Regions from separate parts of the Homo sapiens genome. Here all the other regions are linked to region 2. Evidence: fine-mapped expression QTL. A gene starts in region 2. Each other region holds a variant in brackets. All regions are shown on one strand. Distances are from middle to middle. Region 1 has its middle 34 kb from the start of NUAK2. Region 2 holds the start of NUAK2 (NUAK family kinase 2). Region 3 overlaps DSTYK (dual serine/threonine and tyrosine protein kinase).

Evidence for each region. PIP is the estimated chance that this variant, and not a neighbour inherited with it, causes the effect.
Region 1: its variant is fine-mapped to the expression of NUAK2 in whole blood (TOPMed, PIP above 0.99).
Region 3: its variant is fine-mapped to the expression of NUAK2 in whole blood (INTERVAL, PIP above 0.99).

Annotation. Positions count from the first base shown.
Region 1 is chr1:205,282,534-205,292,770 of GRCh38, reverse strand. No RefSeq gene overlaps it. Among named protein-coding and RNA genes, the nearest start is that of NUAK2, 34 kb to the left of the region's middle. RefSeq lists enhancers at 851-1,090, 8,174-8,273. The variant T/C (reference allele first, on the strand shown) is at 4,452.
Region 2 is chr1:205,316,323-205,326,559 of GRCh38, reverse strand. NUAK2 (NUAK family kinase 2) reads left to right here and starts at 4,815. Exons shown (of 7, transcript NM_030952.3): 1 at 4,815-5,162. The coding sequence starts at 4,932. RefSeq lists a silencer at 5,129-5,308.
Region 3 is chr1:205,161,704-205,171,940 of GRCh38, reverse strand. DSTYK (dual serine/threonine and tyrosine protein kinase) reads left to right here. Exons shown (of 13, transcript NM_015375.3): 3 at 2,109-2,778; 4 at 7,986-8,218; 5 at 8,935-9,018; 6 at 9,729-9,905. Among named protein-coding and RNA genes, the nearest start is that of RBBP5, 45 kb to the right of the region's middle. The variant A/T (reference allele first, on the strand shown) is at 5,186.

The DNA of each region.
Region 1 (10,237 bases), 34 kb after region 2:
GGACTGCTTGTGTTGACGTGGCTACACTGAAAACTGGCTGTTTTCGGTCCCCACTCTTGCGTCACTGGATTGGTCAGTCAAGGAATAAGCCCCCCAGCTGTGGGGCTCTGCACGCCTGGGCCCAGGGGCAGAGTTAGTAGAGCAGATATTTGAGAGCCCAAGTCATTCCTCATAAGCAATGTTAGCCTTGCTGTCCCAGCCCTTGCTGGAAATGCCCACGAGGGTCAGAATGGGCAGACAGACTGGGCGTGGTGGCTCACACCTGTAATCCCAGCACTTAGGGAGGCAGAGGCGGAAGGTAGCTTGAGCCCAGGAGTTCAAAACCTGCCTGGTCAATATCTCAAGACCCCATTCTCCACAAAAAGGGGGAAAAAAAAGAATAGGCAGACAGATGCCAGGTAGGGGTGAGGAGTGGAGTTGGTCAACTCCCTCCCTCGCCAGTCATGGTTGGGGGTGGGGTGGGCAGCACACGGCTGGCTCCTTGACCCTGGCCTCCCACCAGGCTCACCCATTCTGTCTTTCCGCCTAGCAGGGTTGACTTTCTTTAGATGCCTCTTTAAGGCTCCAGGAACACAGAACTGCAGTTCTGTCCTTCACAGCTAAGTCAGCTTGGTCCACCTCACAACTGAGTCCCATACCCAGGCCTTTTGGGGCAGTCTCTCTAGCCCCAAGATTCCCCACATCTGCACCACTCATCTCAGAAAAAAGAACAGCTTGGAATTACATTAAATTATGTGTGTGGTGTCACATCATCCCCCATCCCAAATTAACTTGCGGGGCAAAGGAGTAGATACCGATCACCACTGAAGTCTCTGGCATTGTGCTAGAGCACTGGTTCTCCAAGTGTGGTCCAGGAACCCCTGGGGGAACCCCTGGGGGCTCCCCAAATCTTTTCAGAAGGTACACACAGTCAGAAGTGGGGTTTGTTGTTGGTGGTGGTGGTGTTATGAGACAGGGTCTCGCTCTGTCACCCAGGCTGGAGTGCCGTGGTGTGATCATGGCTCACTGCAGCCTTGACTTCCTGGGCTCAGGTGAGACCACAGGCACGTGCCACCACCCCTGGCTAATTTTTTGTACTTTTTGTAGAGACAGGGCCTTACTATGTTGCCCTCGAGGCTGGTCTCGAACTCCTGGACTCAAGTGATCCACCCAACCTGGCCTCCCAAAGTGCTGGATTATAGGCCTAGAACTGTTTTACTAATAATAAGGAAACATCATTTGCCTTTTTCACTCTCATTCTCTCATGAGTGTACAGTGGAGTTTTCCAGAGATTCACGGTGTGTGATATTACAACATACCAAATGCAGCAGTTGGAGGTATAAGAATCTACCTCTGCACAATTGTGTGAATATATTTATTTATTTTTTTGAGGCAGAGTTTCACTCTGTCGCCCAGGCTGGAGTGCAGTGGCGCAATCATGGTTCACTGCAGCCTTGACCTTCTGGTCTCAATTGATGAATATATTTAACACTATTGAACTATATGCTTAAAAATGGTTAAGATGGGCTGGGCACGGTGGCTCACGCCTGTAATCCCAGCACTTTGGGAGGCTGAGGCGGGTGGATCACGAGATCAGCAGATTGAGACCATCCTGGCTAACACGGTGAAACGCTGTCTCTACTAAAAATACAAAAAATTAGCCGCTCGTGGTGGTGGGCACCTATAGTCCCAGCTACTCGAGAGGTTGAGGCAGGAGAATCGCTTGAACCCAGGAGGCAGAGCTTGCAGTGAGCTGAGATCGCACCACTGCACTCCAGCCTGGGCGACAGAGTGAGACTCAGTCTCAAAAAAAAAAAAAAATGGTTAAGATGGTAATTTTATGTTATGTTTTTTAACATAATTTAAAATTGAAAAATCAAAAAATATTTGTAAAATAATGTAGAACAATGCCACTCTCCTCAATAATTTTTTTTGTTTTGAAAAATTATTTTTTGTACATATGTACATAATGAGATATTACTGTTATCTTAATTCCTGCTTTTTTTTCTTTTTTTGAGACTTACTCTGTCACCCAGGCTGGAGTGCAGTGTCGTGATCTCGGCTCACTGCAACCTCCGCCTCCCAGGTTCAAGTGATTCTCCTGCCTCAGCCTCCTGAGTAGCTGGGATTACAGGCATGTGCCACCATGCCCGGCTAATTTTTGTATTCTTCTTTTTTTTTTTTGAGATGGAGTTTTGCTCTTGTTGCCCAGCCTGGAGTGCCATGGTGAGATCTTGGCTCACCGCAACCTCCACCTCCCGGCTTCAAGCGATTCTCCTGCCTCAGCCTCCCAAGTAGCTGGGATTACAGGCGCCTGCCACCATGCCTGGGTAATTTTTGTATTTTTAGTAGAGACGGGGGTTTCTCCATGTTGGCCAGGCTGGTCTGGAACTCCCGACCTCAAGTGATCCACCCGCCTTGGCCTCCCAAAGTGCTGGGATTACAGGTTTGAACCACCGCGCCTGGCCTTAATTACTACTTTTAAAATGTCTGTTTGCCTTTCTAATATGGTAAATACCAGTAGCTATCATTCACCCACATCAACAAAGCTTCTTTGGGTGTCCTCAATAATTTCTAACAGTGTAAAGAGATCCTGAGATCAAAATGGTTGAGAACTGCTGCTTTCATGCGAAGGAATACAAGGTTGGGTGCAGCGACTCACGCCTGTAATCCCAGCACTCTGGGAGGATGAGGCGGGTGGATCACTTGAGGCCAGGAGTTCAAGACCACCCTGGGCTATATGGCGAAACCCCATCTCTACTAAAAATGCAAAAATTAGCTGAGCATGGTGGTATGTGCCTGTAATCCCAGCTATCTGGGAGGCTGAGGTGGGAGGATCCCTTGAGCCTAGGAGGTTGAGGCTGCAGTGAGTTGAGATCACACCACTGCTCTCTAGCCTGGGTGACACAGTAAGACTGTCTCCAAACAAAAAGAGAAGGAATACAGCAGGCAGGGGGTTGCCAGATAAAAGAAAGGATGTCCAGTTACATTTGAATTTCCGATAAACAATGAATTTTTTTTTAGTATAATATTACACAGGACATGCTTAACTAAAAAGTTATTCATTTTTTTTTTTGTTTTTTTTTTTTTTGAGACGGAGTCTTGCTCTTTTGCCCAGGCTGGAGTACAGTGGTACAGTCTCGGCTCACTACAACCTCCGTCTCCTGGGTTCAAGCAATTCTCCTGCCTCAGCCTACTGAGTAGCTGGGATTACAGGCGCACGCCACCACACGCGGCTAATTTTTGTATTTTTAGTAGAGATAGGGTTTCACCATGTTGATCAGGCTGGTCTCGAACTCCTGACCTCATGATCCGCCCACCTCAGCCTCCCAAAGTGCTGGGATTACAGGCATAAGCCACTGCCCCTGGCCTTCTATTCATTGTTTATCTGAAATTCAAATTTAAATGGGTGTTCTGTGTTCTGTATTTTTACTTGCAAAATATGGCAACCCTAATAGCAGGAGAGATTTGGGTTAGTCAACAGGATGAACTTGGATCAGATATTGGGATTCTGACCCAGGGAAGGATGGAGAATCCCCTATTCTGGACAGCTTTAAAAAAGGAGAATGTGGGCCAAGTGTGGTGGCTCATGCCTGTAATCCCAGCACTTTGGGAGGCCAAGGCAGGCGGATCACCTGAGGTCAGGAGTTCAAGACCAGCCTGACCAACATGGAGAAACCCCGTCTCTACTAAAAATACAAAATTAGCCGGGTGTCGTGGTGTATGCCTGTAATCCCAGCTACTTGGGAGGCTGAGGTAGGAGAATCGCTTGAACCCAGAGGGCGGAGGTTGCGGTGAGCTGAGATCACACCATTGCACTCCAGCGTGGGCAACAAGAGCAAAACTCTGTCTGGAAAAAAAAAAAAAAGAAAAAAAAGGAGAATGTGGCCAGGTGCGGTGGCTCACACCTATAATCCCAGCACTTTGGGAGGCTGAGGTCAGGAGTTCAAGACCAGCCTGGCCAACATGGAGAAATACTGCCTCTACTAAAAATACAAAAATTAGCCAGGTATGGTGGCACATGCCTGTAATCCCAGCTACTCAGGAAGCTGAGACAGGAGAATCACTTGAAGCTGGGAGGCAGAGGTTGCAGCGAGCCAAGATCGTGCCACTGCACTGCACTCCAGCCTGGGCAGCAGAGTGAGACTCTACCTCAAAAAAAAAAACAAAAAAAAAAAGCAAAAAAAAAGAAAGGTGAATGTGTCTGAGGACTGAAGGGCAAGCCTCTAAATGCTTAGGGGTAGAGTTTATAGTCAGAGGGACCTTCCTGCAGCTGGGCCAGAGACTCACCCACCCTCTAGAAACCTCAGCAGCTGAGGATGAACAAAACCCACAGGAAGTGGTGGAAGTGAAACTTGGTGTCAGTGTTGTTGTTATTAAAAGGGGGAAGTGACACCGGGTGAGTGAAGGGTGGGTGGAGGTGAAGTCTCTATAGGCAGCGAGGTCATTCGGCAGCGCCCCCCTTCCTGCTC[T/C]GCTAAGAATAGTTACGGTTGTGATAGGGGTGTGGTTTGTCTGAGGCTGGGGGAATGAATCTCGCTTGATGTCTGGATGGGGCAGAGCAGAAGTAGCACTGGGGTGGTCAGAGCTTCAAGTCAGGTGGCAGCAAAACCTAAGAAGCATTTTTGGGTTTGGAAATAAACAAATAAGTGGCCTCAGAAGCAGCTCAGAGGAGAAGGATCCTGCCTTCCAGCTAAGAGAACTATAAGAGGGAAGCAGGGCCCATGACCATGACAGTCCCTCCTCTAGTCAGCTTGGGAAGCTCTGAGAAGCTCTTTCCATTAAGAGAGTCAGGGATGCTCCAGAAATCAGGCTGGCAGGGAGGCTGCAGTGCGTTTTTGTCTCTAGCACTTACTGAGCACTTACTGTGTGCTTGACATTGTGCCAGGCCCTGAGGCTCCAGAATTAAATACAGTGTGGTTCCTGCGCTCCAGAGGTTGGAAGTCCAGTGGAAGAGATATGCATCAAACTAATATAAATTCATGAATTCATTGTGATCAGAGGTAATAGTTGAAAGCCCAAGCAGCAGCCTACCTACTGTGAGCCTGAGCCCACCCCTCAGCAACTCCCCAGCCCTGGCCCAGGCTGCAAACCAACAGAGGCCGGAGTCACCCAGCTGCCTGCAGAGCAGTGCATCAAGTCAGGACCCTTTCTCTGCCCAGACGTCTTTGCCAACTGTTTGGAACAAAGGGAAATCATCTGGTTTGGGGAAAGACATAAGAATGACCGTTTTCTTTCCTAAACCTTCACCCTCTCCCATTTCGGCCTGAGAAAAGCTGTTAGATGCTTCTTCAGAGGGTTTCTAAGGGCCACAATTGCCTTCCACCTAAGAGGGAACAGGGTGGGGAGGGGTGGCAATGGCCTTCTTTGACCGCAGAGGTTTTGGATTTAGCCTGAAGTCACAGAACAACTGAAGCCAAGAGACAGTTCACCCTTTCTGGTGTCTAGAGCTTATTGAACAAATGTCCATTGACCCCCTATTGCTAGGGGCAGGGGTGAAATATTGAGTTGAGTCCAGGGCTCCAGCCTACTAGAGGCACAGTCTGTAGAGAAGTCAGATAATGACCAGGCGGTGCCTAAGCTGGATCTGAATCCAGGGCCTTTAGTCATCAGACACTGGACAGATTCTTCGTGGAGGGAGTTGGGCCTTGAAGGCTGAAGAGTTTTCTGGGTCAAGTACATGTTTAGGGAGCAAGAATTCCTTGGAAACTTAAAAACTGGTCTCCCATGGTCAAGTCTGGCTCCTGTATGTGAACATCATACACACAGAACATGGCTCTGTATCCTGACTCCTATGCACCCCCGGCCACATTGTATACTCCTGCTTGTATGCTCCTGGCCAGTGAGGTGTCTGCAGTCTTGGGACAAGTGGTGGCCAGGGAGTCTTTGTCCCCTGGGTTCCTGGGGTTCAGGCTTCAGGTCTGGTTTCTGCCGTTGCCCCTCCTCTGGTTCCCTCCTTCTCACAAGACACAGCCTGACAACCTGGCCTTCTCTCTGCCTTCGTTAGGAGGGAGGCTGCTCAAACCACAGCTCACCACAGCTCACCACAGCTCACCACAGAGGCCAAGCTGGGTGTGCCTCTGTGGAGCAGCGGCAGGAGCCGGCTGAACACAGCCAGGACCAGTTTCCCCAGGGGCCAAATGCAACCTGTTCTCCATTGCATCTTCCCCACTGGTGGGCAAATTGTGTTGGGCTTCTGTGAGGCCCCATGAAGGTAAGAGAGTCTGGAGTGACTTTGCCCAGATTGGCTGTGTGACCTTGAGCAAGTCACTGGACCTCTCTGGGCCTTGACCTCCTTTATTCGATTATAATCCAGACCCTAGGGTCTATCCCAGCAATGTACGTGAACGTGTATTGTGAGTTGTCGAGCACAGCACTCGTGTGAGAGGTTATTACTTTATTACTTTGAATTTGCCCTGAGCCCCACAGTTTGAATAGGGAGGCTGCCTCAGAATTTATTTTTGAGTATCAGCTTCCAGATGGAAATTCCTAACCTGGGGTCTGAGGATGGTCTGCAGGGAGTCCTGGTGTCATATAGAGAATTTTTGAGTAGATGCGTTTTTCTTGGAAGAGGATGCAGAGTTTTCATCAGACCATTGAGGTCTGTTAAGAGCCACCATCTGAGCCCTAGGGCTCCCTCCATGGGGGGCAGGCAGAGGGGCCTCAAATCCTTGGTGGCCGTATTCATGAACCGAAGTGACCTGCTCAACAAGGACATGCCTATGTGGGTCTGAAAATACCGGCAAGCTAACAGAGCTCATGAGAACCACAGTGCCAGAGCCTGCGAGGTGAATTTCATTAGCACCCTCTGTGCTGGCCTGACCTTAGCTGGAGCACTGCGCTCTGTTCAAAACAACATGCTTTTTGTGGTTTTTTTTTTTTTTTGGTTGGTTAGTTTCGTTTTTTTAGAGATGGAGTCTCACTCTGTCGCGTAGGCTAGAGTACAGTGGCGTGATCACAGCTCACTGCAGCCTTGATCTCCCAGGCTCAAGAGCCTTGATCTCCCAGGCTCAAGCGATCTTCCCACCTCAGCCTCCCAAGTAGGTGGCCCATGTCTTCACGCCTGGCTTTTTTTTTTTTTTTGGTGAGAATCAGTAATTTTTTTTTTTTTTTTTAACTAGAGATGGGGTCTTGTCATCTTGCCCAGGCTGATCTCAAACTCCTGGACCCAACTGATGCTCCTCCCTCAGCCTCCACTTTGAGATTACAGGCGTGAGCCACTGCACCTGGACAAAGACATAATGTTTTAAGAAGAACTTGGGTAAATGGAAATGTTTCCAGAGGATACAGGCCAAGCTGTCAAAAGGTCTTAAATCCATGTCTTAGGAGAAATGACTGAAAGAACTAAGGGTATTTGGCTTGCGGCAAAGAATATAGGTTAGATGGGGATTGGAAGTGCGTTAACTTCTTGAAATACTGCCTAGTGGAGTCTACCCGGGAGGCAGATAGAAACTTAGCAAAAGGAAATACTTTCCAACAGGGAGCCCTGTCCCTCCTGGAATGGAATAGGACTTTCCTCTGCCTCACATACTTGGTTTTGCAGGAAGGAATAAATTGCAGACAGGATCCAAGCTCTATCTAAGAAAGGAACAAATAAATGACAATGACCACTTCCCTAGGGTTTGGGGAGACTGGGTGATGCCTTGTGGGTCAGGGCAGGGGAGTACAGGCTGGACTTGGGCCCCTGCAGCCTCTATCTCCTTCACAAAGGAGTCTGCTCTGTCTGCCTGGGTCTGCAGCTGTCAAACTCCTCCCTCTCCACTTCACAACCCTCTGATGTGGTGTTGCACAAGCAGGGGGGGAGCCAGGTTGGGTGAAGAGAGAGGAAGCTGGCGGCCCTGGGAGGCTGGGCTGCAGCTCCCTTGGAGGACAAGCTAAGCTGTCATGGGCCAGGCTGGAGGGGTGGGGAGGGGAAGATGGCTCACTGGTGAGTCATGGTGGCCATTGTCTGCTCCTGCTCCCTCTGGGGGAGGGCGACTGAAAGAGACAAGCCCTCTGGCCAGCTGGGCCTGTGAGGGCAGGTTTTCCACTCTTGTCCTCACAGCTCTGAGAGCAGCTGGGGTTTGGCTCCCTTACCCTGATTTCCCATCATGCAGCAAGGCAGGGCTGGTGGCTGACATTAGATGGATGTTGAGGGGAGGGTGTCCAACCCCGCTCACACCTTGCTAAGGGGCTCAGGATGGTCACACAGTGGATCCTAAAGGCCCAGGCTGGGGGAGAAGCTGTCCTGCCCTGTCTGGCATGGCAGACGATGCAGGCAGGCGTGCCCCTCTCTAGTGATCACACTGAACCTGAGCGGCACACCTTCCCCACCGCACCCTTCCTAAACCTCCTTCCAAACCTGCTCCCATCTAGCAGGCCTGTCCAGCACCCCACCCTCCCTCAGGGCCCCAGGGGAGCCTGCAGAGAGTGAGGTCACTCTGGATTGGTGCCTGGAGGCACCACCCTTGCCCCTCACCACAACCTGGTCTGGTCCGAGTGGCAGGGCCTCCATCCTGCCCCCTGTGAAGCCCAAGTTTGGGTCCCTGATAACTCCTAAGGCTGACGTCACAGAAGCACAGAATGACAGACTGTCAGGGTTATTGTATGTTGGGGAAACTGAGGTTCACAGAGGTCAGACACATGCAGCAGGGGTGCCCAGTCTGCAGTGGGCAGGTGGGGAAGGGAAGACTCCCTGGTGGGGGACTGCTGTGCTCCCAGGCCCTAGCAGGCCTCCAACTTGGGGACAGTCTGAGTTTGGGGCCACCTTACAGTTCCCCTGCCGCTGCCTCCGTTGCTGCTTCATTCTCGTTTGGGCAGAACAAAGGTGTTCCAGAGCTCAGGGGGTGAGGTGAGGAAAAGAGCTACCTTGTGTGGGCGGCTGTGTGGCTTTGGAGTCGACAGATGTAGGTTAGAGCCCGCATTCCTCAACCTTCTGGTGGCTGGACCCTGAGAGTTGCCTAGATCTCATTTCCCATCTGTGAAGTGACAGTAATAAGCATCTTACAATGCAAAATGCTTTGCATATGTCGTCTCATGTATCTTTGAAGAGGGACAGAATATGCCACACCAAAATATGCCATTTCAGCATAAGGGTTACTCTCACTTGAAAAACAGCTGATACAAAAGACAAACTCTGACCTCCTCCCTTTTCTCCCTGTCCCCGGGGGGAAAGAAACGTTTTTGTCACCAGAGATGAGGAGTTGAGGCTGAGGCAAATTTGTACAAAAGGATAAAATACCTCTTACCTTCCTTAGCGTCCCTAATCATCCTTTTCCACAGTCGCCTCTTTCTTTCCTTCTTTCTTTCTCTTCCTTTCTTTCTTTCTCTCTCTCTCTTTCTTTCTTTCCCTTCCTTCTTTCTTTCTTTCTTTCTTTCTTTCTTCTTCTTTTTTTTTTTTGAAACAGAATCCCGCTTTGTCACCCAGGCTGGAGTGCAGTGGCATGATCTCGACTCACTGCAACCTCCGCCTCCCAGGTTCAAGCAGTTCTCCTGCCTTAGCCTCCTGAGTAGCTGGGATTACAGGTGCATGCCATCACGCCTGGCTAATTTTTGTATTTTTAGTAGCGACGGGGTTTCACTATGTTGGCCAGGATGGTCTTGATCTCCTGACCTCATGATCCACCCACCTTGGCTTCCCAAAGTGCTGGGATTACAGGCGTGAGCCACCGCATCCAGCCTAACAGCCCTTTGTCTTCTAGTTGCTGAGATCATAGGGTGAGGTCCTTGGCCATGGTCAGGTGTACTGGGCACTGCTGGACAAGGGACACTTAAACGAGGTAACAGAAAGGACTTTCTGCTTTGGGAGGCCGAGGTGGGAAGATTGCTTGAGCCCAGGAGTTCAAGACCAGCCTGGGCAACATAGTGAACTTCATCTCTACAACGTAGTGAGACTTCATCTCTACAATAAAAAAACAATTAGCCGGGTGCATTAGTGGGTGTGGTCCCACCAGCTACTCGGGAGGCTGAGGTGGGAGGATCGCTTGAGCCCAGGAGCTCAAGCCTGCAGTAAGCTGAGATGGTGCCACTGCACTGCAGTGAGACCTTATCCCCCCCAAAAAAAAGACTTTCTGGCTGGAAGGCTAACGAGGCGCTGGGATGGGTGAAGTGTGTGATGATGGGTGTGTCATGGAGCCGAGAGAGCTCTGCCTGCTGATCCAGCTCGCCTCTGGCAGTTTGTTGCTCTGTACTCTTCCTCAGATCCTGACTTTATTTTGGCACTTACCAAGCTCTCTTGTCACTGACCTATTTTCATCTCTGTCTTTCCCGATAGATTTCAAGA
Region 2 (10,237 bases):
AAAAGAAAGCGAGTGGCTGAGATTTCTAATTTTTTTGGGTGGGGGGGACGGAGTCTTGCTCTGTTGCCCAGGCTGGAGTGCAGTGGTGCGATCTCTGCTCACTGCAAGCTCCGCCTCCCGGGTTCACGCCATTCTCCTGCCTCAGCCTCCTGACTAACTGGGACTACAGGTGCCCACCACCACGCCCGGCTAATTTTTTGTATTTTTAGTAGAGACGGAGTTTCACCATGTTAGCCAGGATGGTCTCGATCTCCTGACCTCATGATCCGCCTGCCTCGGCCTCCCAAAGTGCTGAGATTACAGGCGTGAGCCATCGCGCCCAGCCCTTGAGGTTTCTAATTTGTCCCTGCTTAGATATTGCAGAGAAGTTAAAGCAGATTTGAAACAAAACTGAGAGTTGGTTTATCCAAATCTCCTTTTACAGATAAGGAACCACCCCTAAAAGAGAAAGTCCTTGGCCATGGCATGGTGTGGGTTGGTGGTGGAAGTGGAGCTGGACCCCGGCACGCCTGCGTCCTGTCTCTCTGCGTGTGCTCTCCCTCCCATTCCAGGATGGAGACAGGGCAAGCTCTTTGGCTTGGGGAGAAGAGCTAGCTTCTCCTTCAGTCACATCCCCTCCCAGGCCTGGTCTGTGAATAACATTCGGTTTCTCAGGGTAATTGAGAGTTTGAGGGCTGTTTTCAGTGTTTGCGGCACAAATTCTCCAAACTTCCGGCAAGACATACTAGAATTTAGAATTTAGAACCAGGGCTGGCTTAATAAATGTTAGATATCATTATAGCTGTTATTGCAATTACTCAGTCCATATTTGTTGAATGAATGAATGAATGAACAAATGAACGGTTTACTGGAGGAACAAATTGCCTAAGCCGACTTCTGCTTGTGGTCACAGCTTTGGGCATCCCATAAAACATGCTAGGCTTAGTTTGGTCAGAAGAGGGCAGCTTTGAGCTAGGCTTCCCAATTTGCCAGCGACTAACAGGATTTGCATCCCTTTCTTGGAGGGGAGGTAGGGAATACTACAGGCTGTAATTCATCCTCAGGGCTCAAGACTCATCTTAGAGGTATCTGAGATCTGCCTTACCTGCTCCCAACCCTCACGTGACCCCCATGGCATGGCCTTGGTGCCTCTCACCTCTGCTCCTACCTGCACCCTGCTCCCACCAGGACACATCACAGCAGTCCACACACTGAGCTGCTTTCAAATCCCCTTTTACCAGTCTGGACCCACCTCCACTCCCCTACAGACACACACACAAATTGTGAAGTGTGTAAGGACAAGGACAGACATTTGTTCCCACTTGTTTTCCCAGCACAGCACATAGTAGATCCAATAAACAGCTTTCCCCCATGACCCCCTCAGACATGGATCAGCCATGGGACTTGGGGCTGGGGGGTAGGCGTCTCCCTTCCAGGAGTCAATAGTGGGGCAGGCAGGATTGAGAGTAGCTTAGCTCAGCCCAGATATCTCAGCACATCCACACATCCGACCACATGACCCAGGAATTCCCCAAGACTGCTGGTGGCAGAGTCCCCGACCAACACGGATTCCCTGTCAGGCACTCTCGCTTTCCCACCAACTAGACCTCCTTTAAGGAATTTGAGATATGAGTTTCAGCAGCTTAGATCATTTCCGAGTCACATGCTGTTCTGGCTCTGTGTCTTCCTTGCCTACCTGCTGTGATCTTTGGTCACCCATGGCTCCTCACCTAGATGGGAATTCAGATTGTAGTCAAAGGAAGCTGGAGCAGGGGTGAGAAGGTCCAAGAAGTTGCAGATGATTCCCTCCCGACCATGGCCAGATAGCTGGTAATGGAGTGGGCCCAATCACATGTAGGTGCTTTTAGTTTCATCTTTGGATTCCATCGCACATCCATTCCTTCAGTTCATAAGCATCTATGGAGCGACTTTTAGGTGCCTCGCAGCACACTGGGTGTTGGGGATACCTGGAAAAAATTACAGGAGTGTAGCTAGATTAAGCCTTAAAAGAAGCGTTAAGCTCATCTGTATAATTCTTTCATCTTATGAAGAAATGTTGATTCAGCTGGCCAATTGCCACTTGTCCTTCAGGTCTCAACTTAAAAAGTCCTGGCTTTAGGAACCTGCGCCTGACCAGCCTCCTCCCACCTGGGATACATATCTTAAAGAAAATCTGAGCCGGGCGCAGTGGTTTACACCTGTAATCCCAACACTTTGAGAGGCCAAGGCGGGCAGATCACCTGAGGTCAGGAGTTCAAGACCAGCCTGACCAACATGGAGAAACTCTGTCTCTACTAAAAATACAAAATTAGCCGGGTGTGGTGGCGCATGCCTGTAATCCCAGCTACTCAGGAGGCTGAGGCAGAAGAATCGCTTGAACCCGGGAGGCGGAGGCTGTGGTGAGCCGAGATCACACCACAGCACTCCAGCCTGGGCAACGAAAGCAAAACTCCGTCTCAAAAAAAAAGAAAAGGCAATCTGTTCTTCTTCCATCATGGACCCTTCTCCCTCTGTACAGGATTTACTTGTTTATTTCTCACTAGACTGAGAACATTCCAAAGGCAGGAATCTTGTCATGATTGTGTCCCCAGGCTCAGCACCTAGTGGGCACCAGTATTTGTAGAATGAAGTAATTAGTAGAAGGCCACAGAACTGGTTAGTGTCAGAGTCAGGACTCGAACTCAGGTCCCCCAACACTCGGCCCTGTGCTTGCTCTTATGTTATCCATACTTCCTTTTGAGAATTCTAATCATCTGGATGAGCCCCCAGGAATAGAAGCAGATTTCAGAGGGGAAAGGAGATAGCAAGTCAAGGCAACTATCTCTGGGCCTCATCCTATTTGCACAGAAAACCCACAGCAAAAGGGGAGGCTGGTGGAGGGAAGAATGCCAAACCAGCTGCCACCTCCTGTGGCCCTCCAAATTTGGGAGCGATACATTGGTTTCCTGTGTAAGATGGATCCTCTCCAGTCACAAAGGAGATAAAGAGCTCCATGGAGGGATGGAGACATCTGTAACTCACACTAGAAAAATAATCAAAGGATCAGTGGAAGTAGAAAAGTGGGCAGCCACTGGGGGTGGGTCCTTCTCCATCCTCAGCATGCCCTGGATACACAGGGGAGGCACCATCCTCCTGAAGGCCTGAGGGGAAGGCTGGCTCTCCAGCATAGCTAGAATCCATCCAGGGCCCTAAACTGGCTGGCAGAAGGGGTTTCCCTCAGGGAAGAGGATCCAGGTCTATTGTCCTCTATTCTCTTCCTCAGGACCAGGGTCTAAATCCCGCCACTTTATTACCAGTTGTGTGGCCTTGGACAGAATAATACTCATTTCACAGGATTAGGTTATCAAGATGGCCAAAGGGGAAATGTTCCCTTTCTGCCATTTAAAGCAAGAAGGAAAACCTATGGCCATTCTCATTTCACTGTAAATGAGCACTCAGAGTGGAGATTCTGGACCTAGCAACTCCAGGCCTCAAAAACTAAGTCAAGCTGGGCGCAGTGGCTCACGCTTGTAATCCCAGTACTTTGGGAGGCCGAGGCGGGCGGATCACGAGGTCAGGAGATCAAGACCATGGTGAAACCCTGTCTCTACTAAAAATACAAAAAATTAGCCGGGCGTGGTGGCGGGCGCCTGTAGTCCCAGCTACTCGGAGAGGCTGAGGCAGGAGAATGGCGTGAACCCGGGAGGCGGAGCTTGCAGTGAGCAGAGATCGCACCACTGCACTCCAGCCTGGGCGACAGAGGGAGACTCCGTCTCAAGTCAAACCTCATAACCTACCACCAGTGCTCCTGGCACCAAAATCACAAGAAAACCTTGGGTGGAGCAACCATTTTCAGACTTAGGGACACAGGTTAGATAGTCGGCATGTAAAAATGTTAAATAAATATGTATCCCTTCGGGTTCTCTCCACCTCCAGCCGACACATCCTAAATAAATTCCACTAAGTGGTTGAGGGAATCTACTAAACCTTAGAAGCCCTCTTTTTTTTTGAAACGGAGCCTCACTTTGTTGCCCAGGCTGGAGTGCAGTGGCGCCATCTTGATTCACTGAAACCTCTGCCTCCTGGGTTCAAGCGATTCTTCTGCCTCAGCCTCCAGAGTAGCTGGGATTACAAGCGCGCACCACCACGCCCGGCTAATTTTGTATCTTTAGTGGAGATGGGATTTCGTCATGTTGGCTAGGTTGGTCTTGAACTCCTGGACCTCAAGCGATTCGCCTAAGAAGCCCTCTTTGAGGAAGAAGGAAGAAGTTTCCAGGGCCATTGGATTCCAATATCCAAGTAAGGTTGATCTAACTGAAGACAAGTGAACTCGAACCATAGGACAGCTCTGCACTAACCCTCCCACTAGGCTGGATTCTGCCTCTGTTCCATCCCAGCTCCCTTTCTCCTTTATGGACTCAATGAAGTGGTCAAGCAATTATAGATTTTGGCTTGGGACAAGCAAATTACTCAGGATGAAGAAATACTTTGGTGACCTTTAGTGCCCTCAGATCGCCCCTTGCCAACTGAGAACAGAGTACAATAAAACAACAGGGCATTAAGCAGGACCAAGCGCCACTCAGAGGCAAGTGCAGCTCCAAGGGCCCTCAGAGTAAGCTTCTGGGCCTCAGGCGGCCTTCGCTGGAATCCCCTAGTCCCCATTCCTGGTGGGCGGGTTCCATTGACACCTTTCCCGGCCACGCCGAGGGGGAGGAGGCGGGGCCTGGAGCCCCGGAGAGCCAATGTGGACGGCCGTGGTCACGCGCCGCCGTCGAGCAGGCCAATGGGCGCCGGGGGGCGTGTCCAGGGCCTCGGGCTCAGGGCGTTTATAACAACTTGGAATGCTGTGCTTTACTGCGCGCTCTGGTACTGCTGTGGCTCCCCGTCCTGGTGCGGGACCTGTGCCCCGCGCTTCAGCCCTCCCCGCACAGCCTACTGATTCCCCTGCCGCCCTTGCTCACCTCCTGCTCGCCATGGAGTCGCTGGTTTTCGCGCGGCGCTCCGGCCCCACTCCCTCGGCCGCAGAGCTAGCCCGGCCGCTGGCGGAAGGGCTGATCAAGTCGCCCAAGCCCCTAATGAAGAAGCAGGCGGTGAAGCGGCACCACCACAAGCACAACCTGCGGCACCGCTACGAGTTCCTGGAGACCCTGGGCAAAGGCACCTACGGGAAGGTGAAGAAGGCGCGGGAGAGCTCGGGGCGCCTGGTGAGTGCGGCTCCCTCTCGCGGCGCGGGGCGGGCTCCGGCTTGGCCGCCGGCAGGGAGCGGAGGAGGGCGGGCGGCGGCTCGCTCGTTGCTCGGCGGAGAGGCCAGCGTGGTCTTTACCGCGCTGAGCTTGCGGGGCTACTGCGGGGTGTCCCTGGCAGATGTGTCAGTCCGTGATTGCAGGGACAGTGGTCGCAAACTTGCGAACCCCAGCCAGCAACACCGTACTGCTGTGATGATTGCCAAATAAAAGGGAGGCTATGGATAGTTGGCGCGGAAAAACGAATCGTGTCGTGTCCTGGGATAAGATGGATGGGACTTAAGTTGAGTTTTGCTGGGAAAAGACTGTTCAATAGAGTGCAATGGAAAGAGGAAGTAGAAGGCACCCCATCTTAATAGGTATTTGGTAAATATGTGTGTGGTTGAATGAATGGATGAGGTGTGGATTTCCCCAACTCCAAGAATCTGGCAACCCAGCACACTGGAGCTCTGGCACGGGGTGGGTTTTGACATTTAGGTCCTTTCCAGCTCTAAAATTTAGTTGAAATTTCATTATGATGAGTTTTTGATTCTGGAAAATGTGAAACCAGGTCCACTGTACCAGAGACACCTTTCGGTTTGGGGGCCTTTTCAAGAACATGCCCTGTTACTTTGGTGCGAGCGTAGGAGTCTAGCAGTCTGTGTGACCTTGGGCAATTTCCTTCATCTCTGTACTTTGTTTCCCCTTTTGCAGAACTGTAGAAAACACAGCCTGCCTCACAAGCTGCTGTGAGGATTGAATAAGATCGAAATATGAACTTATATTGCTCCTAACACATAGAACTTGCGGTGAGATAGCCGGGCGCGGTGGCTCACGCCTGTAATCCCAGCACTGTGGGAGGCCGAGGCGGGCGGATCGTGAGGTCAGGAGATCGAGACCATCCTGGCTAACACAGTGAAACCCCGTCTCTACTAAAAATACAAAAAATTAGCCGGGCGTGGTGGCGGACGCCTGTAGTCCCAGCTACTCGGGAGGCTGAGGCAGGAGAATGGCCTGAACCCAGGAGGCGGAGCTTGCAGTGAGCCGAGATCGTGCCACTGCACTCCAGCCTGGGCAACAGAGCGAGACTCCGTCTCAAAAACAAAACAAAACAAAACAAAACGAAACAAACAAAAAAAGAACTTGCAGTGAGAATTTCTGGAAAGGGCAGCCCAGAAAGGATGGCAAATTTGTCAAAAGTTAGTTAGCAGTGGTTAACTGGTTCTCAAACTTGAGTTTAAAGTACGTAAGGATCACCTGGGATGTTTGTTTAAAATACTTACATTCTCTGGTTCCACACCCAGAGTAATTTATTCTGAAGGTCTAGGATAGGGCCATATAATGTATATTTTAACAAGCCTTTTAGAGCAGGTGGTTTAGGCATTATTATGTTTTGCCAAATCCAGTTGGGTGCTGGTTGTGAGGGGGTGTGTGTGTGTGTGTGTGTGTGTGTGTATGGTTTGCCCTATTGGCTACATCAGCAGTTACTTCCCCAGATTGTGTTTGCTTTTGCAGCCAGTAGCTGGTTTGAAATTCAAGAAGTCATTTCATTGGTGAAGGAGAGTGGATGTTGGAGAAAGGGGTAGATTATGGCCCCATCAATAGGACCGAGTATGTTTTTCCTGCTATCGCCTGGCACAGTCCCCAGTTGCCTGCTGCCAGGTTACAGCTATTGGGCAATCATGTACTTCCTGGCTTGCCTTTTCTTTCTCTTTCTGCAAAGTGTGAGGGCCCGGTGAGGCTCCAGGCTTGAGGCTGTTGGACCCAGGCTTTGTCAGGGGCTTAGCTGGAAAATAGCTGCTGGTGGCTTGTGCTTCGTGCCTCTTGGGGGTGGAGACACTGGGTCGTGGGGACTGGGGTGGCCCAGAGACTGAGAAACTGAGATTGAAGTTCAGAGTTCCCATCAGGCTCTTGACCCAGGTCACTGTGGGGTGTGTGTGTGGATGTGCATGAGAGAGAGAGAGTAAGAGAGAGATCTCATTTGATTCCAGAATGAGATAAACTAGCTTTCAGTTTTCAAACTTAAGTGGATTTAGGCAGGGATTCCAGCTCTTATTACATCAGAAGATACTCCCTGGCCTCATGCCTCTTGCTCTATGTAGGAAGCCAAGATCAGTAGGCATGGGACCTGCTGTGAACCTCCCTGATCCATAGACCACCCAGTTCTGCAGCTGGGAACTTGCTCAGGGTCTCCTTCCTTCTTGGAGAGCAGCTGCCTGCTGTGCTAATGGTTTCTCAATTCTGGAGCATTGCCTCTTCCCCACCCCACCCCACCCCTGCCTCTTGACTGTCCTTCGTGAATCGAGAGAGACCTAGTGCCTCAGGATACTTCAGTGCGGGAGAGGGGTGTGGGAGCTTGCCCAAGACCTCCCCTAGAATGAATTGAGATTGTTGGTGGGAGCTAGATTCAGAGGAAAGCCAGCTGGGTGACTTCCATCCCAATTTTCTCTCCACCTTTCTAGCACACTTCCCGCTCCCAACCTGCCTAGATGGGATTATCAGGGCCAGATGGGATTGGCTGAGGGAAGGGCAGGTGGGCGGAACTAATGGCTGCTCTAGGAGGACATCAAAGGAAAAACAAATATTTGCTCTGGCTCTTCAATACATTCCTGGTATCCAAATGACATTTCCTCCTGGGACTCACCCAGCTCCCCTGGCCACCCCTTCCCCTAAAGAGAAAAACACATGCTGGGGTCTCTGAAATGGTGGAGTCCACCAAAGCCTTTGGATGATCTGCATGGAAGTCTTACCTCCAAGGGGAACCATTAGGGCCGTGAGTCCAAGTGTATGGTGCTCTGGAGCAAGAGTGCTTCTGTCTTTTTTATGTTTTGGAGTGCAGTGCAGGATTTCAAAATGTTTGGAAATGACTGAGGTGGTCCGAGTCCTTCATTGACAGATAGAGTAGCTGAGGCCCGAAGAGGGGAAGTGACTTATCCTGTAGCTGGTGAGTGGCATGCCTGCAATATGGGCTCCTGGATGACCAAGTACTGAGTCCTAGACTGGGAGTTGGTCTTGAGATGAGCCCAGGCTTGCCTCAGTGTGCTTTGTTATTCCAACAGTTAGCTCCCGCTGTCTTTCCCAGCACTACAGGCAGTGCTTCAGGTGGGAAGAGTCACTGGGAACCAACCCCCACCCTCACATACAGTGACTGTGTTGAAGGATTCTGGGTGGGTGAACTACACTATATTCCTGGGTTTCAAACCTTGTTGGGGATGCTGCCTAGCTGACAGTCAAGGTTGCAAGCATTCAAATCGTGGCTCCATTGCTTACCAGCTGTGCAACCTCTCTGTACCTCAGTTTCCTTATCTGTAAAGTAGGGGTGATAATTATTCCTACCTCGTGGGATTCTCTTAGGATTAAGTAAGATAGCATATGTAAAGTGCTTAGCACAGTGTCTGACACACACAGTGTTATTATCCCAGCAAGGCTGGCTTTGATGAAGTCCTGCCCTTCCCTTTCCTGGGGAATCCCTGCGTCCTGGAGGTCTGTCCTACCCTGAGAAAGAGTATGGATTGTGCTTGGCTTCCCTAAGCCAAACCACTTTGGTTGCTGCTTTGTTCAAAGTCCTCGTCTCTCCTTCGGCCCCAGCTCCAGAGAAGGACTCCTGCCTGGCTGGCTGCCAAGGGCTTGCTTGGCAGGACACTGCCCTCCCAGCTCCCTCTGCACCTGCCTGCTAAGCGGCAGGGAGGGAGGCTGCAGGCCACTCTTGTCCTTGAGCCCCAGCCAAACCACACAAGAAGGCTGGGCAGGGAAGCTCCTTGCCCAGCAACCCGGTAGAGGGGGCTGGAGGATGGCAAGGAGGGGGCAGCACAGTATAGGGAGGTGGCTCAGGCTCCCCTTGGAGCCCATTCCTGATCCCTGCCTAGCTCTCTGGCTGGTGTGGTGGGATGGCGAGCCACCCCTAGGCCCACCCCCACTCTGCCCAGCCTGGGCCAACCCAGCCCAACCTCTCCTCCGTTATCTAAATGGGTCATCCCCTAGCTCCTTGCCCTGCCTCCCAGACAGCAGCTGCTCCACAAAAGGCCAGAGAGAAATCAAGGATCTTGGCTCCAGCTCTGGGTGATAACTATGACCAGAGATGCCCAGCTTGCACCTTCTCTCCCTCCACCTGGAACCAGCATCTCTGGATCTTCTTTTTCTAAGACCTTTCTACCATCCTCTCCTGAATCCAGATCGTTCCTGATCTGAGTCCCTGGGAGGGAGGCAGTGTTTACCAATTGAGCCACAGCACCTACCTCTCCAGGGTGTTGGCAGAGGAGTGGGCATATTTGTATATCTGTAAGTGGGATGGGGTGGCTGGTGATACTACACAGCCTGGCCTAGGGCAAGATATGGGGCATTCCCTTCTCCAGGGATGGGAGGCAGGCAGGGAAATCTCTATGGCTGAGATGGAAGCTTCTCCAGGCACCATCCTTCCATCTTCAGTCCTGATTGTGTCTTGATGTGTTGTGGAACCTTGGAAAAGTCAGTGTGCCTTTCTGGACTTCAGTGTGTGCTGTTTGCAAAATAGAATGAGGAATTAACCCTGCTGCCTTTTCCAATGTTTAGGACTGCAGGGGCAAGAAAACCACTGGGACAGAATCAGAAATTATGCTCAAGCAGGCTACCGTGGCCATAGTATGGGGCTGCTTATAATAATACTTGGCTAGCACCTTCCTGGCATAGTAGCAGGTGGCCCATTTCTGAAGAAGTTCAGCATAGAATTCTAGAGTTTGGAAGGGTGCGTAGAGATCCTGATGTGCAAATTCGTGAATGGCTCTTTCTTTTTGGCCTTTGTTCAAACCTTTCTTTCTGTCTGGAATGCCCTTGTTGCCCCTCCCTAGCCCACCTCCCTTGGCTTAGCAAACCTCACTCATCCTTCAAAATCGAAAGCAGTTTTTCTCCCAGAGGTGGTTTCCCTGCTCCTCCTATGGGCAAAGGAAGTTCTCTCCAGTGCTCTTGGAGCCTCTCTGCAGGCAGGGACATCAACTGCCACATTTATCACAATAGAATGGAGTTTAATTAATTGTCAGTCCTCCCACTGGACTGTGGGACTGTCCACTTTTTATCTGAATCCC
Region 3 (10,237 bases), 150 kb after region 2:
GGGTAAGAAATAAAAACAGCATAATCATCTGAAAGAAACGAAATTGTGTATCTTTTAGACTTCAGACAAAGTAAATATTCAACATCTGATAACTGTTAAGGACACAAACTTGAGCATATTTGTGTTGAGTTCTTTTATAACTCTAAAATATGCTAGAATTCTATGGAGGATTGATTCTGAGTTTACAGACCCTTGAAGACATCAGGAGTCTGTGTACCTACAGTGGTAATATATTAATATGTGTGAGTCCCTAGTTAACCGTTTACACCTGGAATGCCAGGCAAAGTAGACAATGTCAGAGACACAGAGGAACAACCTGTGCAATGGATGGAAATGCAGTAGATGGACATATGCTCTTGTGTGTTTGGAACCTTCACAGGAAAGAAGCAGAACACAAAGTGGAAAGTGCAGACGAGGCAAAGGACCTGTGGAAGGTTTGTTTCTAAACCTCAAACCTCAAAGATCTTTTTTTTTTTTTTTTTTTTTAATTGAGACAGAGTCTTGCTTTGTCGCCCAAGCTGGAGTGCAGTGGGGCGATCTCAGCTCACTGCAACCTCCGCCTCCTGGGTTCAAGCCGTTCTCCTGCCTCAGTCTCTGGAGTAGCTGGGGCTACAGGCGCCCACCACCACACCCGGATAATTTTTGTATTTTTAGTACAGATGGGGTTTTGCCATCTTGGCCAGGCTGATCTCAAACTCCTGACCTCAAGCGATCCTCCTGCCTTGGACTCCCAAGGGCTGGGATTACAGGTGTGAGCCACTGCGCCGAGCTTAAAGATCATTCTCGAAACTCACTTTAGCAAACTTGGGTATTTCAGTTAGGATTAGGTTCAATTGTAACAGATCATCAAACAAACAAACACAAAAAAACCAGGAACTTAAAGATAGAGTTTTTGGGTTTTTTTTTTTTTCCTTACATGAAAGAAGTCTGAAGCTAGGTAACTGAGAGCTGGCATGGCAGTTCTGTGATCACCAGAGACCTAAGCTCCCTCTTTCTTTTGGTGTCATCATCTTTAGTGCTGGCTTCCACCATCAGGTTTGCCTTAGGGCTGCTGAGTGATCGCTGCTGTTCTAGCTGTCACATCTGTGCTCCAAGCAGGAAGAAGGACAAGGCCAAAGGACATATTTCCTGGTAGAATCCACCCCCTGTACCCTAAAGGGCTTTCCTGGAAACCCCACCCACTTATCGGATACCCCTATCTGTAAAGGACATTGCCTTCACTTATAACATGGAGACTAGATATTGGATAGGCAAACCTTGGTCTTTGCCATACCAAGTGATCGATCATATTCCTAAAGGTATTTCTTAGACTTAGGTTGCTAAGACTTCGGGATATCTACAGACTCAGAACAGGACAGTAATAATGTTTGGTGAACCTGGCTTTTCGTTTCCTGCTTAATTGATTAATTCAACAGTATTTAGGACTTACCACATGCTAGGCACTGGAGCTACGATAGTAAGCAAAATAGACCCAGTCCCTGCCCTCAAAGAGTTTACAGACCCATGGGGGAAAGAAAGGTTTTAAAGAAGTGGATTATAAATATGTTGAACCTTAAGAAGAGGGAAGTAAAGTGTGCTTGGTTGGGGCTGTGTGATAGGAAAGGCTCTATAAGGATATGTCATAACATATACATTGAAACTTAAAGGATGCTTAGGAGTTAGCCAGGTCAGAATGGCAGGGATGGAGGTGTCAGAGGAGAGCAAGAGGGGGAGGAGTGCCCCAGGTCGACTCACTCCCAGTCTGATAATTTCCATTACAATTCCTTTTTCTTCCATTATTTGTCTTAATTCTTCATCAGAGGGAATCAGTGGGAATGTCTAAGCAATAAAGGAAGGCAGAGACCAAAATTTTTTTTTAATCTGATGGCTAAAGGGGTTGCCATCCTTTCTACTTCTTTGTTTTTTCACTCTCTCTAGATGAGTGCCTGCCTTCATAGGCTGCACCAGGGAGTGTTGGTAACCGAGGAAGGAGGTGGATCAATGGCTGGGGTACCGAAGTCCAATTGTTCCATTGTAGATCAGGATTTTGGTCTCAGTGTGGGACTTTGGGGAGACAGGGATTGGTTCTGACCCTGAGGCGCTGATATATGACCCCCTTCCCCTTCCAGGAAGTGGACGTTGTGGTAGCACCATGCCAAGGCCTCCGGCCCACAGTGGATGTTCTGGGTGACTTGGTGAATGATTTCTTGCCTGTGATAACCTATGCACTCCACAAAGATGAACTCTCTGAGAGGGATGAGCAAGAGCTTCAGGAAATCCGAAAGTATTTCTCCTTTCCTGTATTCTTTTTCAAAGTGCCGAAACTGGGCTCGGAGATAATAGACTCCTCAACCAGGAGAATGGAGAGCGAAAGATCACCGCTTTATCGCCAGCTAATTGACCTGGGCTATCTGAGCAGCAGTCACTGGAACTGTGGGGCTCCTGGCCAGGATACTAAAGCTCAGAGCATGTTGGTGGAACAGAGTGAAAAGCTGAGACACTTGAGCACATTTTCTCACCAGGTGTTACAGACTCGCCTGGTGGATGCAGCCAAGGCCCTGAACCTGGTGCACTGCCACTGCCTTGACATCTTTATTAACCAGGCATTTGACATGCAGCGGGACCTGCAGATCACTCCCAAACGTCTGGAATATACTCGAAAAAAGGAGAATGAGTTGTATGAATCATTGATGAATATTGCCAACCGAAAGCAGGAGGAAATGAAGGATATGATTGTTGAGACACTTAATACCATGAAGGAGGAACTTCTGGATGATGCTACTAACATGGAGTTTAAAGGTAGGTCCCAGAGAGCTTGTTGGGGTGCTGGCACGGGAGGAGTCTCTAACCATTTTCTAGCCGGAAATTAAGAACGTTAATTCCTAAGGTTAAAGGAATCTCAGGGTAACTTCATCCACCCCACTGTTACCAGCAGGAGCCCACTATTTAGCCAAGGTGGCCTCTCTTGCTCTCAAAGATCATTGTGGAAGATTCCACCCTCATTCCTTCCCAAGAACATTAGCTCAACTTTTGGTAAATTCATCCTAATAGCTCTGTAATCTCCACTTTCTGCCTGTACCCCCTCAACCCCTAATGGAGCTGGAGAAGAGCTGCTTGGAGAATGTTAGTAAATTGTGCTTTAACCTTTGCTCCTGCAGTATGGCTCATGCCTCTTTATTGGTTCTTTTTGTCTCATGGTCTAATTTCCTTTCAGGCTGCTTCTGAAGCCCACATCAGGAGGATTTCCCAAAGTTGTGTTTTTAGCCTTTTGACAGTCCTATTCTTCACAAATGGCTACTAACAAAATTGGGTGAAAGTGATTGGTCAGGTCTTTGGGTGTCTGAGATGCTGCTGATTTTGTATACTGACTTCTGTATAAACCTCCATGCAAGATTAAAATGACATGGTTTGCAAGTTACCCTTTAGAGTCTCAGTTGTGAGTATCCTAATCCCTTGGGAGGCTTTCTGAAAATACACATGCTCAAGACCACTAAAGATGACTGCAGACTTACTCACGATTTCTGACATGGGACCCAGCATCAGTATTTTTAAAAAATAACCTCCCTAGGTAGATTCTGCTTATTTCCTTTTTCTAGATGAGGGACTAAGGCTTAGAAAGAGTAAGTAATTTGCCCAGGGTCACACAGCTAGTAAATATTAGAGGCAGGATTTGAATCCAGACAGTCTGATTCCTGAGCCCATATTCTTAATTTCCATCCTTTACTGCTTCTTAATCTGTTTCCAGTTACTGATGCCACCTTCTTCCTGGTACCCACCTTCAAAACCTCAGCATGGTCTTGAATTGTCTTCCCTTGGCTAATCAGTTGCCAAGTACTGATTAATCTTTCTTTTTTTTGAGATTAAGTCTCGCTCTGTCGCCCAGGCTGGAGTGCAGTGGCGTGATCTTGACTCACTGCAACCTCCGCCTCCTGGGTTCAAGCAATTCCCCTGCCTCAGCCTCCCGAGTAACTGGGATTACAGGCGTGTGCCACCGTTCCCGGCTAAATTTTTTTTTGTATTTTAGTAGAGACGGGGTTTCATCATGTTGGCCAGGATGTTCTTGACCTCGTAATCTACCCGCCTCGGCCTCCCGAAGTGCTGGGTGGCGTGAGCCACCACACCTGGCCTCGATTAATCTTCTTACGTATTCGATACCTATCTATGCTTTTCTATTCTGTCTTAAGTCTAACTGAACTATTGTTATCTAACTGATCTCCCTGACTTCTTTCTTCAGTTCACCTTTACTGGCTCCCTACTTCTACAGACTAAGTTTAACTCCTACACCTAGTATTAAAGACCTCCCAAAGCCTAGCCCTTACCAACTTTTCCAGTCTTATTTCCCCACTATGCACTTTCCTGTATTTTCTATGTCAGTTGGTCTTAACTTCTTTCTGTCCTCCATACGCTCCCTTTACTTTTTCTTTGCTAACACCCTGCCTTAAACCTGGAATGTCTTTGATTTGTCTGTGAACTTCCAAATCCTACCTACCCATCAGGGCCTGTCTCCCAAATGCCATTTTTCATGAAGTCTTCTTTAATTTTCTCCTTCTTTTTTTATTTTTGGGACAGGTTCTTGCTCTGCCATCCAGACTGGAGTGCAGTAGTGCAGTCATGGCTCACTGCAGCCCCAATCTCCTGGGCTCAAGCAATCCTCCTGCCTCAGCCCCCTGCACACCTGGGACTACAGGCACATGCCACCACACCAGCTAACTTTTTGTATTTTTTTTTAGAGACAGGGGTTTCACCATGTTGGCCAAGCTGGTCTTGAACTCCTGGTCTCAAGCAATCCTCCCACCTCGGCCTCCTAAAAAGTGCTGGGATTATAGGCATGAGCCATCACACCTAGCCCTGCTTTAATTTTCTTAGCTAATAACAATTGCAGTCATTTGAAATCCCATAGCATTCCATCTGTAACTTATTTCTGGCATATTTCACTTTCTATCTTTTATTATAGTTATTTATGTACTGCGGACTACTTCCTAAAATCCTAGAGTTGAAAGAGGGTAGGATCTGGGTCTTATTCATCATCATATTCCTTGCAGCAAATAACACAGACTCTTGTATACAGTACGTCTTTGGAGAATCAATGAGTGTGTGAATGATGGTATCTAGTTTAAGTTACACTTATAAATACAAAGGAAGTATGGTTGACTTTAGCAAACATAGGTTGCCTGATTTCTTATAGTCATTCTAAAGATGAACAGAG[A/T]TACCTCTTTGGTTAATTCCCCACTGCGAGAGGAGTTGTTGAGAAGTGTTACTTGCAGTGGAAATCTTAGGAAGTCTTCTCAATATTTGATTAAAGACACCAGAGCATCACTGCCGGCATCATATTACACAGAATGGAGGTCAGGACAGCTAGGTTGGGCAGACAGTAAAGTATCCGATTGTTCTTACCTTGTTCTAAGTGCTTTCTGAGTATCCTTGAAACAATAAGAAGATTTAGAAGCAAGCTAGCACATATTCTATGGAGCCAGATTTTTTTTTTTTTTTGTAAAGACGAGGTCTTGCTGTGTTGCCCAGGCTTGTAGCGATCCTCCTGCTTCAGCCCCCACAAAGTGCTAGGATTACAGGTATGAGCCATCGTGCCCAGCGTTGAGCCAGATTACTATTACTGTCTGTTTTTAAATAAAGACAATGCATATGTGCTAGGTATCATGATATTCACACTTTATAAAATTTATTTTTAAGATAAAACCTATATGTATAGTACTTAACTCAGAGTTATAAAGACACCATCCCCCAGCCACCCAGTTCTTCTCCATATGTTCTTCTGCACTTGTCTTTTTCATTTAATATGTATCTTAGAGGGCATTCCATAAATATTCATACAAATTTGTCTTCTTCTAATGGATATGCCTGAATTTATTGAACTATTCTCTCATTGGTGGACATTTAAGCTGTTTGTTTTTGTTTTTTATTTTTATTTATTTATTTTTTTTTGAGACAGGATCTTGTTCTGTCGCCCAGGCTGGAGTGCAGAGGCCTGGTCTAGTCTCACTACAACCTCCGCCTCCTGGGTTCAAGGAATCCTCCCACCTCAGCCTCCCTAGTAGCTGGGTCTAAAGGTGTGCACCATCACACCTGGGTCTAAAGGTGTGCACCATCACACCATCATACCTGTATTTAGTAGAGACAGGGTTTCACCATGTTGGCCAGGCTTATTTGTTTATTTTTTATTTTCTCTTTCGCTAATACAAAATGTACTGCATTAATCATCATTGTACATATACACCTTGGGACTTGTAAGGGTATATCTCAAGAAAAAGAATTCCTAGAAGCAAAATAGTTAGATCAAAGGGTATGTAGATTTTTCTTGGTTGGTTGAACATTTTAATAGATATTGCCAAATTTCCTCTGAAGAAGTGGCACCCATTTAAGTTTCCACCAGTAGACATGAGAGTGCCTTTTCAGGAGCACATCTTTTTGCAAGTAGTTTGACTTCTCTCAAGTTCTTCTGTCCTCTGATTTACAACATTAATAGATGTTCTAATCCTAAGAGATAGTGTGGCATGGTGGGGACAATTGAGTTTTACTTTTTATTTATCTAGTAATTGATTAGAATAAAATTCCTGGCCGGCGGCAATGGCTCATGCCTGTAATCTCAGCACTTTGGGAGGCCAAGGTGAGCGGATCACCTGAGGTCAGGAGTTCAAGACCAGCCTGGCCAACATGGTGAAACCCCATCTCTACTAAATACAAAAATTAGTCTGGCGTGGTGGTGGGTGCCTGTAATCCTAGGTACTTGGGAGGCTGAGGCACAAGATCACTTGAACCCAGAAGGCGGAGGTTGCAGTGAGCCGAGATCGTGCCACTGCACTCCAGCCTAGGCGATAGAGCTAAACTCAGTCTCAAAAAAAGCAAAACAAAACAAAACATAGAATACAATTCCTGACTCTTGGGTTTTTCTCATTAATATGCTAGGGAGTGTGAAATTTTGCAAAGATCATAGGATTTGGAATAATGAGCACTGGGTTCAAAAGCTGGCTGTATTACTTCCTAACTGTACTATTCCCTTCCCATGTCTACTTTGTTCTCTCTTTGAGGCTGTTTCCTGATCTATAATACCCATGTAACAAAGTTATTGTGAAGATGAAATTAGATTACATGTGTAAAATCCTTATTTTAGTGCCTTTCAAATAGTTTGCACTTCATAAATGTTGTTCCTCCCCTCCTATAAATGTGACATAAAAGCTAACAAAATTGCCGGGCACGGTGGCTCACACCTGTAATCCCAGCACTTTGGGAGGCCGAGGTGGGCAGATCACGAGGTCAGGAGATCGAGACCATCCTGGCCAACATGGGGAAACCCCGTCTCTACTAAAAATACAAAAAATCAGCCAGGCGTGGTGGCGGGTGCCTGTAGTCGCAGCTACTCGGGAGGCTGAGGCAGGAGAATGGCTTGAACTCGGGAGGCGGAGCTTGCAGTGAGCCGAGATTGCATCACTCCACTCCAGCCTGGGCGACACAGCGAGACTCCGTCTCAAAAAAAAAAAAAAGCTAACAAAATCAACAGTCTCATTCTAGACTTATTGCTTCTTATTTATTTTTTTTTTTTGAGACGGGGTCTCACTCCCATCACCCAGGCAGGAGTGCAGTGGCACAATCACAGCTCATTGTAGCCTCTACTTCCTAGGTTCAAGCCATCCTCCCGCCTGCCTCATCTTTTTACTTTTTGTAGAGATGAGGTCTCACTGTTACCCAAGCTCATCTTGAACTCCTGGGCTCAAGCAATCCTCCTGCCTCAGCCTCCCAAAGTTTTGGAATTACAGGCGTGAATCACTGCACCTGGACTTAATTGCTTCTTCTCAGGATCTTAGCTGCCTTTAGTAGTTGAGGGTTACGTGACCCCTGATCATTGTGAGAGTTAGACATCATCAACGAATCATGTCTTTTTGCAGCCATCATCATCACGGTAGTTCCATGGTTCTGATTTGGGAGATGACTTTATTTAGTGTGTCTGCCCCTTCTTCCTCACAACTATTCAGCTTATTTCTCTGCCTCCATAGACGTCATTGTCCCTGAGAATGGAGAACCAGTAGGCACCAGAGAGATCAAATGCTGCATCCGACAGATCCAGGAACTCATCATCTCCCGACTTAATCAGGCAGTGGCTAATAAGCTGATCAGCTCAGTGGATTACCTGAGGGAAAGCTTCGTCGGAACCCTGGAACGATGTCTGCAGAGCCTGGAGAAGTCTCAGGATGTCTCAGTTCACATCACCAGTAATTATCTCAAACAGGTAGACAAAGAATGATTTTTAAGACATCGTGTCATAGATAGCACATGAAAAATCTGCACAAGTCCACACTTCAAATTAGGCAAGAATTTCCCTTTCAGCTTCTTGCGAATCTTGTTTGAATTTTATTTTGTTTTCCTGTCACATGACCACTGCCTGTGGGAGATGTTGGTGAGCTGTAAAACTGCAGTTAAGTTGATGAATATAGGCCAGGCACAGTGGCTCACGCCTGTAATCCCAGCACTTTGGGAGGCTGAGGTGGGCGGATAACCTGAGGTTGGGAGTTGGAGACCAGCCTGACCAACATGGAGAAATCCCATCTCTACTAAAAATACAAAATTAGCTGGGCGTGGTGGTGCATGCCTGTAATCCCAGCTACTTGGGAGGCTGAGGCAGGAGAATCGCTTGAACCTGGGAGGCAGAGGTTTCGGTGAGCCAAGATCACGCCATTGCACTTCAGCCTGGGGGACAAGAGTGAAACTCTGTCTAAAAAATAAAAAAAAAAATAAAAAAATAAGTTGATGAATATAAAGATGAGGTAGAAGGGGCTAGATAGTCACAAAATAAATAATCAGCTTAAGTTGACTCTGCATATATATTGAGGGGTAAGTTTGGAAACCCTGAGTCTGGACTGTGTTCTTGAAATAAGTATCATTTATTGCATTTTTAAAATAGCCACACTACTGAGGACATGTTTTCTTTGGCGTTGTCTCTTTCAGATCTTAAATGCTGCCTATCATGTTGAAGTCACGTTTCACTCAGGGTCGTCAGTTACAAGGATGCTATGGGAGCAAATCAAACAGGTAGGGATTATTACTTAGAGAAAGATTTCAAAGCCCCTAGTTGGCTCAAATGAATCATAGTGACCCCAGTAGGAAACAGATATCTAGGATCTTCTGTTAAGGCAGGGTGACCATTTGTTCTGGTTTGCCTGCCTGGGAGAATTCTGGTTTATGCCTATTCTTAAATAATTATTAACATTGTTCCCTTGAACTCTCAGAAGTTTTGGGTTTAAATGATTTTTATGTTGGGTGCTCTTTGTGGACAATGGAAAAATAGAAAAAAAAGATAAATGATATTTCATGGAGCCATAAGACTCTACCACACTAGCTTCTTCATATTTCTTTTTCCCAGCCTAAATCTTTTCTCAGAACTAGGCTTTGTTGTTGCCAGAGGCTGTGAATGTGGTTTCTGTTCTGGAATTTGATCTGGCTCTTATGTAGAGTTATTTACTGACTTCAGAAAGATTATCAGGCACTCCCTGGCACTGAATGTAATATATTGAGGGTTTGTGAGCATGTAGACTAGGCCTGGTGTTCTTTGATGCTTTTCTCTGGGCTAGGACCTGATTTTGTGGTAGATGGAATTGGAAAGGAACTTTGGACTTCGTATGGCTCCCATCTTATGAGCCTGCTCTTAATGAATGGGTAACCCAGAAAAGGAAGGACACTGGATCTTTGTAGTGGTTCTTGTCTCTCATTCCTTGGTGATCTCGCTGTCTTCATCCTGGTAGATCATCCAGCGCATCACATGGGTGAGCCCACCTGCCATCACTCTGGAATGGAAGAGGAAGGTGGCCCAGGAAGCCATTGAGAGCCTCAGCGCCTCCAAATTGGCTAAGAGCATTTGCAGCCAATTCCGGACTCGGCTCAATAGTTCCCACGAGGCTTTTGCAGCCTCCTTGCGGCAGGTTGGTATGTAGGAAAGGAGATACAGCTGGATCAAGCAGAGAAGAGCCTCATCCAGATGGGAATATTTCGCTCTCCGCTCTTCATATATAATATGTGTGTGTGTCTGTGTGTGTATACATATATATACACATATATATACACACACACACATATGTATATTAAAATCATCAGTATATTTTCTTTCTAGATTGTTATAGGAAGTTTTTTCAATAAATTTTTCATGTGGATATTTTCCTAACTCTCGGGAGAATGGAGTGAGCTCAGTTAATTCCTGCCCATTTCAGAGTGAGGAAAGATAATAGGAGTAGGAATTTTGTATGTTTATATAGTA